4 linked regions of the Homo sapiens genome follow. The protein of the gene in region 1 purifies or fractionates together with the protein of each later gene. This does not show direct contact. Each region holds a gene or a part of one and is shown in the gene's direction. Other genes may lie near its edges.

Region 1 (3,500 bases):
ATAATCACTGAGAAACAAGATTTTTGCTTTGAGGATAAAGTGTAAGTATTTTTTTAAATGGTGCTGATTGAATTTACTTATTAGTCTTTGGCCTGGTTTACTCTTTTTTTTTTTTTTTTTTTTTTTTTTGAGACAGGGTCTGGCTTTGTTACCCAGGATGGAGTGCAGTGGTGTGATCACGGCACTCTACAGCCTCGACCTCCTGGGCTCAAGTGATCCTTCCACCTCAGCCTCCTGAGTAGCTGGGACTGAAGGCATATGCCAACCCACCTGGCTAATTTTTGTATTTTTTATAGAGACGGAATTTTGCCATGTTGCCCAGGCTGATCTCCAACTCCTGGGTTTAAGTGATCCACCCCACTTGGCCTTCCAAAGTGCTCAGATTATAGACGTGAGCCACTGCACCTGGCTTATATTTCTTTTTTGACATTATCTGTTAAATAATGCTATGAGAGTTGAGGATTTTTTTTTCTTTTTTGGACACAGAGTCTCACTCTGTCGCCTAGGCTAGAGTGCAGTGGTGCCATCGTGGTTCACTGCAGCCTTGACTTCTGGGCTCAAGCAATCCTTCCACCTCAGCCTCCTGAGTAGCTGAGACTATAGGCATGTGCCACCATGCCTGGCTAATTTTTCTTCCTCCTCAATAGACTTTAAGCTCCATGGGGGCAAGAACTTTTTTCTTCCGTGCTATAAACGTGGTGTCTCTAATAGTGCCTGATATATAGCAGGCACTCAAGTAATATTTGTTGAATGATTTAATCTAGTAATTTTTCTGGATACTGATTAAAATGTTTATTTAATTTTACTTTTTGTTTTTTTGAGAGAGAGAGGTTTCACTCTGTCACCCAGGCTGGAGTGCAGTGGCAGTAATCTTAGCTCACTGCAACCTCTGCCTTCCTGGGCTCAAGTGATCCCCCCACCTCATCCTCCCAAGTAGCTGGTAGCTGGGATGTGCACACCGCAATGCATGGTTTGTTGTCATTGTTGTTGTTTTGTTTTGTTTTTCTTTTTGTTTTTGAGAGATGGGGTTTTGCCATGTTGCCCAGGCTGGTCTCCAACTCCTGGGCTCAAGACATTCACCTGCCTCAACCTCCCAAGTGTTGAGATTACAGGCGTGAGCCACTGTGCCTGGCCTAGCCTGGTTTATTCTTGATTTGGATTTGAATTATATATATTATCTAGCATCTGAATGACTTATTAGTACCTTTATTGGTAGAAAGTTGGTGTTTTCCAAATATCCTTCTAGATTGAATTTAGAAACCTGAAAAATCAGTTGCTGGTAAGAATGAAAGTTACCTCTGCCTTTGCTAATATAAGGTGCCAAGATTTCAGGAATTAAGATATTAACTAGCCTCATAGATCCTGACTTTTTGAGCAGAGCCCTAGATCTTAAATAATAATTTAACCCTAGAATTTAGAATTTAGATCCAGGTATTAGGCCGAAGGCACTTTTCTTATGTCCACTTCGCCCATAGAATCCTAGAGGGGATATTTTCCAAAGAGCATACCCACAAAAGCCAATATTAGCAACTGTAAACTTTTGTGGATTATTTCTTTGAAGATCTATTCTCAGTGTCAGATGGCACCAACATTATTTAATGGTTGCAATTATTCGTGAAATTATCCTAAATGATACTAGCTTCCTTCTGATGTCCATGTTTTTCTAACTTACTGTGTTACTAATTACTTACACGAATACACCATGAGAATGCTATTGTATAAGCTGGTGAACAACTCAAACCTCCGATTTCAAAAATTTGTTATCTGTGATCCTGTATGAGTCTTTTTCACCATGGTAATGAATACAATCAACTGACATCTTTGAGACTCCCCTTTCTAGAAGTTGAGATCTTGCCTATTAGCTTAATATATAATTCCCCTATAATGTTTGATTAAAGCAAGATGAACTATAGTTTATTTTGAAGGGACAATCAAACCTCTGAAGCAATAGTCTTGTCTGATCTTGTAACCACAAGATTAATGCAGTTCCTATTATATTATGTTTCACCCTGTATGATTGGGTACCTTGATCCAACCAACCATTTTCAGAAGTTTCTCTGAATAAGTGGAAAAGGAAGTGTTCCCCAGCCATCCACCAAAATGAGTTCCAAGTTATGTAATTTTCCTGCAGTGGTGCTGGGCTGTCCATCCACAGGCAAGTCTCTTGGCAGATTCATACAGTCACCATCTCCTTCAGAACCTGTGATGGAAAAGTCCAGTACCAGTGAGCCTATGGTTCTGTAATGTGAAAAAGATGGAATTGGAATCAATTGTCAAGATCACCTAGACAAGTTCAGGGTGTCCTTACATTGTGTGAGGTGACTAGTGTCTTATGAAGGGCAGCCCCCTCCTCCTGTCCCCTGTGCATCATTAATGATGGCATTGAAACCCCTTCCTAGAGTTCTAGAGATAGGGACTACCAACAGTGGTAGTCACTCTTCCTAAGTACTGCTGACTCCATGATACTGACTCTGTTTCTACAACCTGTTCCTTTCATTAGACAGGGGCATATTTTTCTACTTCTTAATTGTGTTCCTCATGTACACTGTGGGTGCCGCTGTTACAGAGACATTGACAAACTTAGACTGTTCTGATTTCAAATAAACCTGATTTTGACTTTTTAACACCAAAGTTCTGATCTTTATTTCTATTTTTTGGAAAACCAGTAAGAGACAGCAGCAGGAGGGACTGGACTGGATTGTAGAAAACTTCAAGAGTTAAGGAGTGCGGAGTGCTGCTCAGGTGCCTTTGTTTCAGGTATGAGAATATGGGTCTGAAGGTAATTTGAAAGCCAGCCTTATATATACAAGGAGGGAAAAGATAGGTCCTGAGGACCAAGTAGGTGTCAGGGAATGGTAGTCTGCCAGCCTGCTCCACTTGTGACATTTATTTGCTAGGGTTCCTGAAGGTATACGCCAGCAATTAAAGTAATATGTAGGTTATTACTCCTTCAGATGTTTACTGTTCCATACATTGTTGTCCATTTCCTTGCTCTGCAGACATTGCTGGTATGACAAGGTTCCAGTTTCTGAGTCTGAAAGACACTGGGCTCATTTTCACTCTAAGGCAGTAGTCTGGCAGCTCAGCTGGTTTCTAACATAGTATTTTCACACTTTGTGACACTGTTAAAAATTGTCAATGAATTCAGGCATTGGAAGCTGGGGACAAAGATTTGGGGTTTGCATGCTAAGGCTCCCTAAGCCTTGTGTTTCCTGTCTTGTTACACAAAAGAAGTACAGTGGGATGAATGAATTTGGGTAAATAGATCATGACAAAAAGTGCTAATGTTATTTGGGTTATGTTGAATGCTCCCATATAATAAATGCTCTCTCTTGTGCCTGTCCAGGTCATAGTCTCTGTTCTATATAGCAGCCAACCACAAGGGTTGATTGGTAAGCATTCCTGCATCTGTGCTGTTCCCCCTAGATTGCTATCTGATATGTTTGTTTCAAACATGTGGAGATCCTGTGTCTGAACTTGATTTCACCATTGCTGTCAAT
Region 2 (3,500 bases), on another chromosome or scaffold:
AACCAGCATTATACTCTTTGATTCTATGAGTTTGACTACTTTAGCTACCTTATATAAGTGGTATTATGTACTGTTTATCTTTTTATGACTGACTTATTTCCCTTAGCATAGTGCATTCAAAGTCCAACCATGTTGTTGCCTATTGCAGAATTTCCTTCTTTTCAAGGCTGAATAATATTCCAGTGCATGTGTGTACCACATTTTCTTTATCCATTAATTTGTTGATTGATAGACATTTAGGTTGGTTTTCTACATCTTGACTATCATGAATAGTGTTGCAATGAACACAGGAGAGCTACTATCTCTTAGAGATGATATCATGGTTTTTATCATCAGAAAACACCCACTGATTTCTATGCTAATTTTGTTACCTGGGTGGAATAATAGTACAGCTATATATTCCTCATTTTAGATATCTTTGTATTTCTACATACAATAAAAAAGCAGAGTACTTAGTCATGTTGAAGAACTTTAAACTTTTAGTATTTCCAGATCAATCTTCAAAACAAGGACAGGTTTATCTTTCTCTCACCACTCAATCTATATATACCTCTTGTGGGCAAGGCCAGTTTTTATCACTGGAGCCTTTCCCCTTTTTATTATGTACCTCTCCCTCACAGCAGAGTCAGGACTTTAACTTTACACAATACTATGGCTCTACATATGAAATCTTAAAAATACATAAAAATTAATAAATTCTGTCTAGAGTAGTATATTTTCCCTGGGGTTACAGTTACTTTCATAATAAAAATTAGAGATAAGGAAAGGACTCATTTATTGGAAAGTGATTTTAGGTAACATTTCTGGAAGAAAAATGTCTATATCTTAATAGTCACTTAATATATGATGGATTGTGTTACTCCTCAGTTTTCAATGGCATATACTAAAACATGGCCCTCTAAAAAGGGGGCAAATGAAATGAGAAACTCTCTGAATGTTTTTCTCCCCTAGGTGAATTCACCTGCTGCTTAGAAGCTTATTTTCTCTTGATTTCTGTTATAATGATTGCTCTTACCCTTTAGTTTTAAGTTTCAAAATAGGAGTCATATAACTTTCCTTAAAGCTATTGACTGTCTTTTTGTCCTGTTTTATTCACCATGAGTTATAGTGTGACAGTTAATTCTTATGAAAATTATATAGAGATGGTTAAATCATCAGAAACTGTAAACCTCGATTGGGAGGGGAAGCGGATTTTTAAATGATTTCCTGACCAAGCTTAACCAGTATATTAAATCCTTTGTACTGTTCTTTGGCTATAAAGAAAAAAGGTACTGTCCAGCAACTGAAACCTGCTTTCTTCCATTTAGCATACCCTTTTTGGAGACAAATTATGCACAGTTGCAACTCTTCGTGAAACCTATGGTGAAATGGCTGACTGCTGTGCAAAACAAGAACCTGAGAGAAATGAATGCTTCTTGCAACACAAAGATGACAACCCAAACCTCCCCCGATTGGTGAGACCAGAGGTTGATGTGATGTGCACTGCTTTTCATGACAATGAAGAGACATTTTTGAAAAAGTAAGTAATCAGATGTTTATAGTTCAAAATTAAAAAGCATGGAGTAACTCCATAGGCCAACACTCTATAAAAATTACCATAACAAAAATATTTTCAACATTAAGACTTGGAAGTTTTGTTATGATGATTTTTTAAAGAAGTAGTATTTGATACCACAAAATTCTACACAGCAAAAAATATGATCAAAGATATTTTGAAGTTTATTGAAACAGGATACAATCTTTCTGAAAAATTTAAGATAGACAAATTATTTAATGTATTACGAAGATATGTATATATGGTTGTTATAATTGATTTCGTTTTAGTCAGCAACATTATATTGCCAAAATTTAACCATTTATGCACACACACACACACACACACACACTTAACCCTTTTTTCCACATACTTAAAGAATGACAGAGACAAGACCATCATGTGCAAATTGAGCTTAATTGGTTAATTAGATATCTTTGGAATTTGGAGGTTCTGGGGAGAATGTCGATTACAATTATTTCTGTAATATTGTCTGCTATAGAAAAGTGACTGTTTTTCTTTTTCAAAATTTAGATACTTATATGAAATTGCCAGAAGACATCCTTACTTTTATGCCCCGGAACTCCTTTTCTTTGCTAAAAGGTATAAAGCTGCTTTTACAGAATGTTGCCAAGCTGCTGATAAAGCTGCCTGCCTGTTGCCAAAGGTATTATGCAAAAGAATAGAAAAAAAGAGTTCATTATCCAACCTGATTTTGTCCATTTTGTGGCTAGATTTAGGGAACCTGAGTGTCTGATACAAACTTTCCGACATGGTCAAAAAAGCCTTCCTTTTATCTGTCTTGAAAATCTTTCATCTTTGAAGGCCTACACTCTCGTTTCTTCTTTTAAGATTTGCCAATGATGATCTGTCAGAGGTAATCACTGTGCATGTGTTTAAAGATTTCACCACTTTTTATGGTGGTGATCACTATAGTGAAATACTGAAACTTGTTTGTCAAATTGCACAGCAAGGGGCCACAGTTCTTGTTTATCTTTTCATGATAATTTTTAGTAGGGAGGGAATTCAAAGTAGAGAATTTTACTGCATCTAGATGCCTGAGTTCATGCATTCATTCCATAAATATATATTATGGAATGCTTTATTTTCTTTTCTGAGGAGTTTACTGATGTTGGTGGAGGAGAGACTGAAATGAATTATACACAAAATTTAAAAATTAGCAAAATTGCAGCCCCTGGGATATTAGCGTACTCTTTCTCTGACTTTTCTCCCACTTTTAAGGCTCTTTTTCCTGGCAATGTTTCCAGTTGGTTTCTAACTACATAGGGAATTCCGCTGTGACCAGAATGATCGAATGATCTTTCCTTTTCTTAGAGAGCAAAATCATTATTCGCTAAAGGGAGTACTTGGGAATTTAGGCATAAATTATGCCTTCAAAATTTAATTTGGCACAGTCTCATCTGAGCTTATGGAGGGGTGTTTCATGTAGAATTTTTCTTCTAATTTTCATCAAATTATTCCTTTTTGTAGCTCGATGAACTTCGGGATGAAGGGAAGGCTTCGTCTGCCAAACAGAGACTCAAGTGTGCCAGTCTCCAAAAATTTGGAGAAAGAGCTTTCAAAGCATGGTAAATACTTTTAAACATAGTTGGCATCTTTATAACGATGTAAATGATAATGCTTCAGTGACAAATTGTACATTTTTATGTATTTTGCAAAGTGCTGTCAAATACATTTCTTTGGTTGTCTAACAGGTAGAACTCTAATAGAGGTAAAAATCAGAATATCAATGACAATTTGACATTATTTTTAATCTTTTCTTTTCTAAATAGTTGAATAATTTAGAGGACGCTGTCCTTTTTGTCCTAAAAAAAGGGACAGATATTTAAGTTCTATTTATTTATAAAATCTTGGACTCTTATTCTAATGGTTCATTATTTTTATAGAGCTGTAGGCATGGTTCTTTATTTAATTTTTTAAAGTTATTTTTAATTTTTGTGGATAC
Region 3 (3,500 bases), on another chromosome or scaffold:
GGTGGGCACGAGGGGTTGTGGTCTGAATGGAGCAGGGGTAAGAGCCCAGCAGGGGAGGAGAGTCAGTAACAGTGAACACAGACAACTCTGGAGGAGATGTGCGTAAACTGAAGCAAGAAATGGAGCCATAAATAGCAGGAAAAGAGGTTTTCTTCTTCTGTTTTGTTTTTTGTTTTTAAGAAACGGGGTCTTGCTATGTTGTCCAGGCTGGCCTCGAACTCCTGTGCTCAAGCCATCCTCCTGGGGTCAGTCTAGTCGTGGCTCTGTAACTAACTGCCCTGGAATATGCAAACGAGGTCTTTTATCATAATCGCAGACCTGGAAGCCAGGTTTTCAGGGATTCATCAGAGTGTGGGGAGCCCTTGGCTCTCCTCCACCAGGGCAAGCCTTGACAGGGATGACTTGAAGAGCTGGGGACAGGCTAGATGTGTCTTCCCCTACCCCCACACCGTCCCTCCACTCTCCCCTGTCCCCAGCATGGCTAGCTTGGTTTTCCTGGCAGCATGGTGGTGTTGGTGTAGTTGAGCTTCTTGCAGGAACTCAGAGCCCTAGGAGGCTAAGGCAGAAGCTGCCAGTCACTTTAAGGGCTAGACCAGGAGGGCACCGTCCCTGCCACCACAGTCTGCCCTAAAGGCAGCCTCCAGCCCAGATTCACCTGGAGAGGGAGGGAGACAGCCACCTTTCATACAGCTGTCTTTTTTTTTTCTTTTTTGAGAGAGAGTCTCCCTCTGTCACCCAGGATAGAGTGCAACAGTGCGATCTCAGCTCACTGCAACCTCTGCCTCCCGGGTTCAAGCAGTTCTCCTGCCTCAACCTCCCGAGTAGCTGGGATTACAGGCGCCTGCCACCACACCCAGCTAATTTTTTGTATTTTTGGTAGAGATGGGGTTTCACCATGTTGGCCAGGCTGGTCTCGAACTCCTGACCTCAAGTGATCCACCCGCCTTGGCCTTCCAAAGTGCTGGGATTACAGGTGTGAGCCACGGAGCCCGGCCAAGACATTCCCAGGTGTTTAGATGAGACATTTGTATTTTTGACAGGAACACCACAGAAGAGGCAAACAGCAGCCCCATCAGCTTTCAGGAGGCGGCGGAGGCCTTTGCCTCATGACTGGATGCTGATGCTTTGATGCTTGGTTGGGTAGTGTTGGCCTGGATTCCCCCACTGTAAGGTTATTTCTTCCTTTTGTAACTAAAAGTATCTTGTAGGGACTTATTTTGAAACCCTGTAAACGTCCTCTTATTCAGATTTTCAAGGTTTTTTTTTCTTTCTTTCTTTCTCTTTTTTTTTTTAGACGGAGTCTCGCTCTATCACCCAGGCTGGAGTGCAGTGGCACAATCTCGGCTCACTGCAAGCTCCACCTCCTGGGTTCAAGCGATTCCCCTGCCTCAGCCTCCTGAGTAGCTGGGACTACAGGCGCCCGACTAATGTTTTTGTATTTTTAGTAGAGACGGGGTTTCACCGTGTTAGCCAGGATGGTCTCGATCGCCTGACCCCGTGATCCGCTTGCCTCAGCCTCCCAAAGTGCTGGGATTACAGGCGTGAGCCACCACGCCCAGCCTTTGGTCGCTATTTCTTTAGCTATTGATTCTGTCCCCTTTCCCCCAACATGCCAGTTAGACCATTTGACTATGTACACATTTTTCTTAAAATCCTTCTGAGTGGTGGCCGGGCGCAGTGGCTCACGCCTGTAATCCCAGCACTTTGGCAGGCCGAGGTGGGTGGATTGCCTGAGCTCAGGAGTTCAAGACCAGCCTGTCCAAGATGGTGAAACCCCGAGTCTACTAAAATACAAAAAAAAAAAAAATTAGGCGTGGTGGTGGGCGCTTGTAGTCCCAGCTACTCGGTAAGCTGAGGCAGGAGAATGGCTTGAACCTGGGAGGCAGAGCTTGCAGTAAGCCAAGATTGTGCCACTGCACTCTAGCCTGGCGACAGAGCAAGACTCCGTCTCAAAAAAAAAAAAAATTCTTCTGAGTGGTTACCCCTGTTTCTTGCATGTACACAGAAGTGCAGTTGATCTCTGTATATTGACCTTATACTTGGCAGAGTGGATCAGGCGTCCTTGGCTGGTCCTGACCAAGAGGGAAAACTTCTTTTTTTGTTTGTTTTTTTGAGACCAAGTCTCTCTCTTGTCCCCCAGGCTGGAGTGCAATGGCATGATCTTGGCTCACTGCAACCTCCGCCTCCCGGATTCAAGCGATTCTCCTGCCTTAGCCTCCTGAGTAGCTGGGACTACAGGCACCTGCCACCACACCCAGCTAATTTTTGTATTTTTAGTAGAGACGGGATTTCACTATGTCACCATGTTGGCTAGACTGGTCTCGAACTCCTTACCTCAGGTGATCCACCCACCTCGGCCTCCCAAAGTGCTGGGATTACAGGCGTGAGCCACTGTGCCCGGCCTCAAAAGGGAAAACTTGTAATGTTTCACTCCCAGCACCACATTGCTGTAGACTTTTTGTAGATACCCTTTATTTGATTAAGGAAGTTGGGCGCGGTGGCTCATGTCTATAATCCTTGCACTTTGGGAGGCCAAGGTGGGTGGATCACCTGAGGTCAGGGGTTCGAGACCATCCTGGCCAACATGGCAAAACCCTATCTATTAAAAATACAAAAATAGCCGGGCATGGTAGCACATGCCTGTAATCCCAGCTACTTGGGAGGCTGAGGCAGGAGAATTGCTTGAACCCAGGAGGCAGAGGTTGCAGGGAGCTGAGATCACACTACTGCCCTCCAGCCTGGGTGACAGAGTGAGACTCTGTCTCAAAATTTAAAAAAATAAATAAATTAGTCAGGTGTGGTGACTCACATGTGGTCCCAGCTACTCAGGAGGCTGAGGTGGGAGGATCACCTAAGCCCAGGAGGTCGAGGCTGCAGTGAAACATGATTGCTCCTCTGCACTCCAACCTGGGAGACAGTGAGGCCCTATGTCAAAAAACAAAGGCCTGGCGTGGTGGCTCATGCCTGTAATCCCAGCGCTTTGAGAGGCCGAGGTGAGTGTATCGCTTGAGGTCAGGGGTTGAAGACCAGCCTGGCCATGGCAAAACCCTGTCTGTACTAAAAATACAAAAATTAGCTGGACGTGGTGGTGGGCGCCTATAATCCCAGCTACTGAGGAGGCTGAGACAGGAGAATCGCTTGAACCTGGAAGGCAGAGGTTGCAGTGAGCCAAAATCACACCATTGCACTCCAGCCTGGGCAACAAAGTGAGACTCCATCTCAAAAAAAAAAAAAAAATTTTCCTCCTATTTTTGCTTTACTAGGAGTTTTTATCACGAATGCCTTTATCAGATGCTTTTTTTGTATCCACTAAAATGACATGATTTTTCTCCTTAATTTTGACAGCATGGTAAGTTTAGCGATGGCTGTTCTTGCGGAAATCTAGTTTTGCGTTCCTGGAATAACTCAACCCAGTTGTGTTACAATACCCCTGCTTGTCACTGGGCTCATCTGCAGGCGTTTTGAGGAGGTTGGTGTCACTTCCTGTCCCACCTGTCTGT
Region 4 (3,500 bases), on another chromosome or scaffold:
CTGGCAGCGGGACACAGCTGGTGATGCCTCTGAGTCAGCTCTGCTCAAGTGCATTGAGCTCTCCTGTGGCTCAGTGAGGAAAATGAGAGACAGAAACCCCAAGGTGGCAGAGATTCCTTTCAACTCTACCAACAAGTACCAGGTCTGCTTGGGTTGCCAGGACAGAGGAAGAGAGAGGGATATAAATGGGTGAGGGTGGACAAAGCCAAGGGGAATCATCACTAGCAGGAGTGGGGGTGTCTGAGGGTCATGTTCCCTCCCCCTGCTAAGTCCCCCAGGACAGCTCATATGACTGCATGTCTGATTGCAACTAGCCCCAGCTCCCAAACCTTACTCCATCCCTTACTACAATCTGTCACTCTCTCAACTCTTCTTCCCATAGCTCCGCATCCTCTGGCCTAGCCTTCCAACTCTTCTACCCCAGTCAGTGAAACCATAATTCTGTAATTCCTTTATGGTGCCCCTTAGCCTTTAGGCACCTGTTAAATGCCAAGAATGCAATCTCAGCATTCCTTATTATCCATAGAGGTAAAGCCCCCTGAGGCCAGGTGGTGGTGGGGATGCTGAGGAGGGAGCCGTTCAGCCCCTAGCACAGTGCCTGTCTTAACCTGACCTCAATAAATATTTGTTGAATGAAAGACTGTCCTACGGAGGTGGCTCTCAGGTTACAAGTGTTGGAACTGTGAGGTCTAAACACCCCCCTGCACAAGGAGATTCTCTTTGTTGACAATCTTTGATGGGTTGGGGCTACTTTTCTAAGGTGGTTTCCTTACCAGCTGCTGCTCTATGCCGCGCTACCAAGACAAGTATGGCCCTCTCTGTAACTACCTGTTGTCTCTCCAGCTGTCTATCCACGAGCGAGAAGACAGCCCCCAGAGCCACGTGCTGGTGATGAAGGGGGCCCCAGAGCGCATTCTGGACCGGTGCTCCACCATCCTGGTGCAGGGCAAGGAGATCCCGCTCGACAAGGAGATGCAAGATGCCTTTCAAAATGCCTACATGGAGCTGGGGGGACTTGGGGAGCGTGTGCTGGGTGAGAGGCCAGAAACAGGAGGCTCAGAAGGGGATTCCCAAGCCTCTGCGGCATCCCTGGGGTGGGGGACTGTGGGGGCGTCCAGGAAGCCACTCTGCGGATCTCACTGATCCCTTCTGCCCCCCTTTAGGATTCTGTCAACTGAATCTGCCATCTGGAAAGTTTCCTCGGGGCTTCAAATTCGACACGGATGAGCTGAACTTTCCCACGGAGAAGCTTTGCTTTGTGGGGCTCATGTCTATGATTGACCCTCCCCGGGCTGCTGTGCCAGATGCTGTGGGCAAGTGCCGAAGCGCAGGCATCAAGGTACTGGCCTCCCATCCTCCCCTCCATTCTAGCCTCCCCCATGCCAGAGTTCAAGGAGCTGCAGTGGCTGCTGCCCTGGAAAGGCCCAGGCCACGGTGGCCTCCTTCCCACTGACTCAGAGAAGAAGCTGTCCATCTGCAAGGAAAGGCCCACCCCTGCCTTGGGGCACTCACCCTTATCCCTTTTGCTCAGAGAGGCCAGTGTCCCATGCCCCTCCTCTCCCTCCCTGGCACAGCTCTTTGTCCCATCTGCATGTGTACCCTTCCATTCTGATTTGAAGCATAATCTGGCACTCCTATCTTGAAGACCTAGTTGTCCTACCCTTCCCAACTACTGCCCACCCTCTCTGTCAACTTAGGATGGGATTAGCAGGCTCTTGTATGCTCCCAGTGGCTCAGCCCATAACCCCACAGAATGCCTCCCACTCAAGGTTCTCTTGTTCAACTACAATTGCTTCTCACTGACCACTCCCTCCTCTGTGCTATGTTTGTTCTTCATTCAACAAATATTTACTGTTTACTATGTTTCAGACACTGTGCAAGGTGCAAACTCTAGCACCTTGCACAGTGCCTGATACATAGTAAACAATTTGTGTCACATGACACATCTAGATGGGACAATGAGCTGTGCCAGGGAGGACACATATAAATCAGGCACTATTCTAAGCACTAAACCTCTATGATTTCATTTAATCTACGCAACAACCCTGTGAATAAGCACCAGTATTTTTCCTTTTTTACAAAGAGGGAAACTGAGGCACAAAGTAACATGCCAAGGCCACACAGCTAGTGTAAGTCATAGAGCAGGTACTTGAACCAAGGCAGTCTGCTATTTCTTAACTATCATACCAGGAGACTTGTTTCTGTGGGTGTATGTGGTTTCTGAACCCCATAACCACTCTGTCTCCGAGGCAGGCATCATTATCCCTGTTAAAAGTAAAACAAGGCTGGGCACAGTGGCTCATGCCTGTAATCCCAGCACTTTGGGGGGGTCCAAGGCTGGTGGATCACCTGAGATAAGGAGTCCAAGACCAGCCTGGCCAACATGGTGAAACCCCGTCTCTACTGAAAAAAAAATACAAAAATTAGCCACGTGTAGTGGCAGGTGCCTGTAATCCCAGCTCCTTGGGAGGCTGAGGCAGGAGAATCACTTGAACCCGGGAGGCAGAGGTTGCAGTGAGCCGAGATTAGGCCACTGCACTCCAGCCTAGGCGACAAGAGCAAGACTCCATCTCAAAAAAAAAAAAAAAGTAAAACAAATGGAAACTGCAAGTGGGTAAGTCTTTTCCCCAAAATAAAACCACCAGTAAGTGATGGACTGGGACTATGAAGCATGATCTGCTTGACCGGAAAGCCTGAGCTCCTGCTGCTTGGCCAGGTGCCTCTCTCTGTGATCAGAACCATCACGGAGGCCTGGGCAGAGGACCTCTATGGGAAGTCAGCTCAGGGAAGCATTAATTCTGCCTCAGAGAACTGGACGATGTTTGACAAAAGGAATGATATTTGAGCTGGGCTTTGGAGGTCAAAGAGTATTCTGCAAAGCAGTGAGGGAGAGGAAGGCATGTCAAGATCAGGGAACAGTGTGTACCCTGGCGTGGCTAGACTGTACGGAGCGTGTGTAGGGGTTGGCAGGGGAGAGGTGGCAAGGAGTACTGGGGGTTGAGACTGGAACACTGGGTCAGAGCCAGTTGGAAGGACTTGGCTTAAATGCCAGACTTGGGCTTTATCCTGCAGGCCACAGAGAGCCATCAGTGTCACGGGGGAGGTTGAGCTTTTAGGAGACTACCTGGTTTGAGGAGGGACTGGATTTGGGGAAGAACTGGAGTCAGGGAGAGACAGGTTAAGAGGCCATTGCCATAGTTCAGGCAAAGAATGATGACCTGAACTAGGGCAGAAACAAAGGGAATGGAGAGGAATAGCCATGTCTGAGAAATGTTTTGAGAACTTGGTGACCAAACTGGATATGGAAGGTGAGGAAGATACAGGAGAGAAGGGGACAGGATGAATAGAGAGGACAACATCTAAGGTAGGGAGCAGTAGCAGGCTTGGTGGGGTGGCAGGAGTAGAGAAAAGGAGTTCAATGTTGACCTTAAGCTTAAAGAGTCTATAAGATACCCCAGGAAAGACAGATGTTCCAGTGAACATTGGAGTATGGTTTAGAG

Evidence for each region.
Region 2: the proteins of USP26 (region 1) and ALB purify together in Homo sapiens (affinity purification with mass spectrometry, with the first as the bait; one large-scale study listed by BioGRID). This does not show direct contact.
Region 3: the proteins of USP26 (region 1) and CPSF1 purify together in Homo sapiens (affinity purification with mass spectrometry, with the first as the bait; one large-scale study listed by BioGRID). This does not show direct contact.
Region 4: the proteins of USP26 (region 1) and ATP1A2 purify together in Homo sapiens (affinity purification with mass spectrometry, with the first as the bait; one large-scale study listed by BioGRID). This does not show direct contact.

The regions. Positions count from the first base shown.
Region 1 is NC_000023.11:133,090,610-133,094,109, reverse strand, and holds part of USP26 (ubiquitin carboxyl-terminal hydrolase 26), read left to right. Parts: intron 1-2,666; 5' UTR 2,667-2,757; intron 2,758-3,346; 5' UTR 3,347-3,392; intron 3,393-3,500. UniProt on the Homo sapiens protein: Deubiquitinase regulating several biological processes through the deubiquitination of components of these processes.
Region 2 is NC_000004.12:73,407,287-73,410,786, forward strand, and holds part of ALB (albumin preproprotein), read left to right. Parts: intron 1-1,307; coding exon 1,308-1,519; intron 1,520-2,068; coding exon 2,069-2,201; intron 2,202-3,025; coding exon 3,026-3,123; intron 3,124-3,500. UniProt on the Homo sapiens protein: Binds water, Ca(2+), Na(+), K(+), fatty acids, hormones, bilirubin and drugs. Its main function is the regulation of the colloidal osmotic pressure of blood. Major zinc transporter in plasma, typically binds about 80% of all plasma zinc.
Region 3 is NC_000008.11:144,402,836-144,406,335, reverse strand, and holds part of CPSF1 (cleavage and polyadenylation specificity factor subunit 1), read left to right. Parts: intron 1-502; exon of another isoform or gene 503-506; intron 507-1,040; exon of another isoform or gene 1,041-1,171; intron 1,172-3,345; exon of another isoform or gene 3,346-3,469; intron 3,470-3,500. UniProt on the Homo sapiens protein: Component of the cleavage and polyadenylation specificity factor (CPSF) complex that plays a key role in pre-mRNA 3'-end formation, recognizing the AAUAAA signal sequence and interacting with poly(A) polymerase and other factors to bring about cleavage and poly(A) addition.
Region 4 is NC_000001.11:160,129,259-160,132,758, forward strand, and holds part of ATP1A2 (sodium/potassium-transporting ATPase subunit alpha-2 precursor), read left to right. Parts: intron 1-7; coding exon 8-142; intron 143-843; coding exon 844-1,033; intron 1,034-1,163; coding exon 1,164-1,339; intron 1,340-3,500. UniProt on the Homo sapiens protein: This is the catalytic component of the active enzyme, which catalyzes the hydrolysis of ATP coupled with the exchange of sodium and potassium ions across the plasma membrane.